2 separate regions of the Homo sapiens genome follow, and region 2 is linked to region 1. Evidence: fine-mapped expression QTL. A gene starts in region 1. The other region holds a variant in brackets. All regions are shown on one strand. Distances are from middle to middle.

Evidence for each region.
Region 2: its variant is fine-mapped to the expression of NCBP2-AS1 in testis (GTEx, PIP 0.93).

The regions. Positions count from the first base shown.
Region 1 is chr3:196,938,215-196,941,126 of GRCh38, forward strand. It overlaps NCBP2-AS1 (NCBP2 antisense RNA 1), which reads left to right and starts at 1,663. Exons shown (of 3, transcript NR_046630.1): 1 at 1,663-1,913; 2 at 2,760-2,912. NCBP2 (nuclear cap binding protein subunit 2) reads right to left here. Exons shown (of 4, transcript NM_007362.5): 2 at 1,037-1,218.
Region 2 is chr3:196,175,047-196,177,958 of GRCh38, forward strand. No RefSeq gene overlaps it. Among named protein-coding and RNA genes, the nearest start is that of LINC00885, 34 kb to the left of the region's middle. The variant C/T (reference allele first, on the strand shown) is at 1,538.

The DNA.
Region 1 (2,912 bases):
AAAATAAAATCTCTTTTCATTCTAGCATTTGGGAAACCTGTGTATCCCCGAGGCAAGCCTGCAATCTGGGAGAGAAGCCCTGCCTGGGTCCAGTGAGTCAGCATTCTTTTCCTTAATTATGAGCAGAAATCCAGGGATCACCAGACACTTAAGGAAAAATTTCAACCGAAACAAACATAATTCAGGGCACAGGAAAAAATTCAAAAGATATATTAAATTGGGCCTGCAAAATTTCTCAGAATATTAAATTGAATGACCAAAACATACAGTAAAAAGAACATAGGATAAATCCAAGAGGTCCAATACTTAAAAGAGTCTGAGTAAGGGAATTAAATGATCAAAGTAAATAGTTTTGGTTTGTACCTATACAGTCAGGTTATATACATCTATATAATGAAATACTATACAGCTATTTACTTAAAAGTTTTTTTCTTTAAAGATGGGGTCTTAACCCGTCACCCCCGCTGGAACACAGTCACAACTCAGTGCAGCCTTGAAATCTTGGGCTCAACTGATCCTCCTGCCTCAGCTTCCTGAGCAGCTGGCACTACAAACACCAGCCACCATGCCCAGCTGTACAGCTATTTTAAAAAAAGACCTACATATGCTGAAATGGAACAATAAAAAATAAAAAAATGATTTTAAAAACAGCACATGAAATACACTACCGCACACCCACAGGGTTACTTCTTGAAAGACGCCCAAGAAACTGGTAACTGACTGCCTCTGGCAAAGGGCATTAGGGGTTTAGAACAGTACGAGATTTTTATATTTTCACTACATTCTTTGGAATTTTTTTTTTTTTACGTGAAGGGCAAACATTCTTGAAAAACTTTTTGTTAAAGAACCATAAAGCATGGATTTCAGAAGAGAATATAAATAGTATCAGCTTTACAGTATAAGGGCAGAGACACACTGGGTGGAAAGTAGGAGGGAGATGAAGGAAAACGTAGGGACGAGTGCAGGGACGCTTATGAGCTACCACTCTCAGCTCTACCCTGGTTCAGCAGCTACATTAGATCCATGGGAAGGATACTCCACAAAACAGAATCCACATGCTGTTTTCTTCATTTTATCCAGACCCATAATGATTTTCTTTATGTCACCACTTTTGCTGAAGAGTTCATAGATTTGTTCTTCAGTTGTGTAAAAAGAAAGATTTCCAACATATAACGTACAGCTTTTCTTCAGTAATTTTTCTTGTTCTTCATTGTCACCCTAGAATTTCAAATAGAGACAAAAGTTAAGCAACTTCAGAGCCTTGCTTAAATAGTATTTCTAAGTACGGTAGAGACATTCATTAATTCTGGTTTGGAAATCAACTTCTCTCATCCCAGCCTACCAGAAATCCCTTGCCCAAAAAGGGGGATGTCGACCTTCTGTGAAGCACTTATGCGAAGTCCAGACTCTTAGTAGAGACAGGGCTCAAAAGTTATACCACATACAACAAAGTCACTTCTACGCCCGACTGCCACGCAAGCGGCTTCCCTTTTCCCTGCACACACCATATCCTCAGCAGTGCATCCTTTAAACCCAAGTGTAGACTCTGGACCTTGACCCAATATATGACAAAGGGCCCTTTTATCCTTCGTAGTGAAAAATAAGTGGGTTTTCAGAGAGAGAGAGAGTTCCTCTTTAATAACCCCCTAGAGACTGTTGAAAGCCACAACCTTGATGCTTTACGTGCTCATAGATCTTTCTCTGAGTTTAGGGGAAAATGTAGTGATCACTAAAAACAAAACAGAGCTCACTTTCTTAATGGGCTTCCAAATTGGGATGACAGGATGAAGCCAGAGACTTAAGCATATAACTGGGCTTCATCCAACACACCTGACAGACAAAGCCCTGGGTCCAAAATGGCTCATCGGGGTCAGGCGCGGTGGCTCATGCCTGTAATCCCAGCACTTTGGGAGGCTGAGGCGAGTGGATCGCCTGAGGTCAAGAGTTTGAGACCAGCCTGGCTAACATAGTGAATGAAACCCTGTCTCTACTAAAAATACAAAAATTAGCTGGGCATGGTAGCAGCGGGCGCCTGTAATCCCAGCTACTCGGGAGGCTGAAGCAGGAGAATCGCTTGAACCTGGGAGGTGGAGGTTGCAGGGAGCTGAGATTGCACCACTGCACTTGAGCCTGGACAACAAGAGTGAAACTCTATCTCAAAAAAAAAAAGTCCACAGGACAATAGTCATTGTATGTTAAAAAGAGGTTTTCGGAACTTTGGAGTGAGACATTAGAGAAAGTAAATTCCTTTCATTTTACTGCTGTTACTGATTTGTGAACATGGAAAGGAGGCATCTTCTTTTTCTACTTTTCTCACACATGTAAGTAAGATCCAAATAAATAGCCTACAGTTTAAGATAACTGTGGTGTAAGTGCTTAAAGTATATTAATATGGATTCCATTCACAGAATGCTAGAAATTCCACATGACAGTATGGCATTAGCATCTAAAAAAAGCTACAGGTTTAGACTGAGGAGATGAATAATAGACAAAGTCAGAAGGTTCCAGTTTTCATCTCACAGGATGCTTTAAGTTCAAAATGGTCAGGATGTGGAACTGTCTAAAGTAGTAACTAAAAGTGGTAGAAGTGCAAATCATGCCTGGCACTTAGGCATCCCAGCACTTTGGGAAGCCCCAGGCAGGTGGATCGCTTGAGTCCCAGAGTTCGAGACTGGCCTGAGCAACACAGGGAGACCCTGTCTCTACAAAAAATTAGCTGGATGTGGTGGCGCGAGCCTGTGGTCCCAGCTTCTCAGGAGGCTGAGGTGGGTAGGATCACTTAGGCTCAGGAGGTTGAGGCTGCGTGAGCCGTGATTGCGCCACTGCACTTCAGCCTAGGCAATAAAGCGAGACTCTGTCTCAAAAAATAAAATACATTAACTGAATAAATTTTTTTTTTTTGAGAAGGAATA
Region 2 (2,912 bases), 760 kb before region 1:
GGGGGTCGGGGGATAAAAGACTACAAATAGAGTGCAGCGTATAGTGCTTGGGTGATGGTTGCACCCAAATCTCACAAATCACCACGAAAGAACTTACTCATGTGACCAAATAGCACCCGTACCCCAATAACCTATGGGAACATTCAAAAGAAAAAGAAAACCGTGTCCTAGTCTCCTCAGCCAGTGGGGCGGTGTGTGGTGGGTGGTCTGCACTTGGTCCCAGAGAGGTCAATGAGACCCAGACTTGCCTGTGAAAGAAACGGAGTGGTGGCGGGGCCCGGGAAAAACCCCTGCGTTCACTCGTTCACTCGGCGCCTGCTGTGTGGCAGGCAGCCCCCCTGCTGGGCTCGCTCAGTCCTCGGTACCATCCTGGGAGCAGGCATTAGCCCCCTTTTGCAGATGAGCCTCCGAAAAGGTGAAGAACTTGACCAAGGGTCAAACTGAGCAAATGGCAGAGTCAGGCCCCTACCCCGGCTGACCACCCAATGCCCAGTGGCTGCAGCGTTCCCGTTACACAGCACGATAGCTCTGCAACACACATAAGCATGCATTAAACCAGAGATGCGCCATCACTCCCACTTCTGGAAGCTGATCTCATAGCACAGCAAGAGACGAGCAAGAAGGATGTTCTAACAAGTGTGTTGAGGGGTCACAGGGTGGGCCTTTCTCACTCCAAGGCTCTGGGACTCTTGGAGCTCTGGTAGGAGCAGGGGAGACCAACCCTACCTCGGATGCAGGGGCAGCATCCGATGACCCTGATAATGACCACAAGAAAGAGGCAGCACCTCTAGGGCAGGAAAGTGCTGGGGGTCAGAGGCATGGGTGCCATTCCAGGCTGAGCCAGGCTGGCTGTGTGAGCCTGCGTGAGTCACTTAACCTCTGAACCTAGTGCTTCACGTGCAAAAGAGGGAAGCTTCCCTCATCCTCCTCCAGCCGTCACCCGCTGCCTTCCTTCTCTCTGCAGCAAAATGGCTCCGAAGCGTTGTCTACACTTCTTTTCTCTGATTCTTTATTTAAATTTGCACTTATTAGGCTGAGCGCAGTGGCTCATGCCTGTAATCCCAGCACTTTGGGAGGCCGAAGCGAGCAGATCACTTGAGGTTAGGAGTTCAAGACCAGCCTGGCCAACATGGTGAAACCCTGTCTCTACTAAAACACAAAAATTCGCTGGGCATGGTGGCAGGCACCTGTAATCGCAGCTACTCAGGAGGCTGAGGCAGGAGAATCACTTGAACCCGGGAGGCAGAGGTTGCAGTGAGCCGAGATCGTGCCACTGCACTCCAGCCTGGGCCACAGAGCAAGACTCTGTCTCAAAAATAATAAATAAATAAATAAATAAATAAATCTTCACTTATAAATTACTCCCTAAATAAAAATAACACGTTATATACATATATATACCCATCTCAGCCTCCCAAAGTGCTGAGATTACAGGTGTGAGCCATCGTGCTTTGCCATAACGTGGTTTTTTTAATGTTTTATTTTAAAAATGTTTTTATAACTTTTATCTATTTATTTATTTTTTGAGATGAAGTCC[C/T]GCTCTGTTGCCCAGGCTGGAGTGCAGTGGCACCATCTCAGCTCACTGCAAGCTCTACCTCCTGGGTTCAAGCGATTCTCCGGCCTCAGCCTCCCAAGTAGCTGGGATTGCAGGCATGTGCCACCGCACCTGGTTAATTTTTCTATTTTTAGTAGAGACAAATTTTTGCCATGTTGGCCAGGCTGGTCTCAAATCCCTGACCTCAGGTGATCCGCCCGCCTCGGCCTCCCAAAGTGCTGGGTTTACAGGCGTGAGCCACCGCGCCTGGACAAAATTTTTTTATACCTTTTAAATTCCAGACCCACCACCAGGTTGAATCCTCCGGGCTGACTGTGCAGACCCCCCACTATGCCCCCTACTTTCCATTAACTGGTATGTTTTATGTTATCAAGAATATTAAAACAAACCTATGCATCTGCCATTGAGCTTAAGAAATAGATGGCCGGACGCGGTGGCTCACGCCTGTAATCCCAGCACTTTGGGAGGCCGAGGCGGGCGGATCATGAGGTCAGGAGATCGAGACCATCCTGGCTAACACGGTGAAACCACGTCTCTACTAAAAATACAAAAATTAGCCGGGCGTGGTGGCAGGCGCCTGTAGTCCCAGCTACCCGGGAGGCTGAGGCAGAAGAATGGCGTGAACCCGGGAGGCGGTGCTTGCAGTGAGCTGAGATCGCACCACTGCACTCCAGCCTGGGCGACAGAGTGAGACCCTGTCTTGGGGAAAAAAAAAAAAAGAACTAGACGAATGCCCAGGCATGGGAAGCCCCAGTCACCTTTCCCTCCCTCAACCCGAGAGGAGTCACATTCCAAACCTAGCCTTTATCATTCCCTTCCTTTTCATTAGACGGTTATGTATGTACGTATCCTTAAACTTTATGCTAATGGTATCACATTTTGTGTATTCTACTACTTTTAAACATTTATGGATTAAATTCTGTCCCTCCAAAAAAGATATGTTGGAGTCTTAACCCCTAATACTTTAAGCCGTGACCCCGTTTGCAGACACCGTCTTTACAGAGGTGCTCAAGGTGAGAGGCACTCATTAGAGTGGACCCTCATTCGATACGACTGGTGTCCTTATAACAAGCAGAACACAGGACAGAGGCAGAGCCACCAGCAGGGAGAACACCACATGAAGCCTGGAGTCAGGCTTCCGGACGAAGCCGGGAGAGAGGCGGGGAACAGGTCCTCCTCCCACGCCTTCCCAGGGAACGTGGCCCTGTCGGCACCCTGATCTCCTCGCCCCTAGAACTGGGAGACAACACGTTTCTGCTGTCCAGCCACCCAGTGTGCGGTACTTTGTTACAGCAGCCCCAAAAAATAAAGACACCATTCCATGTCATGTTCTTGAAATTCATTTGTTAATGAGTGA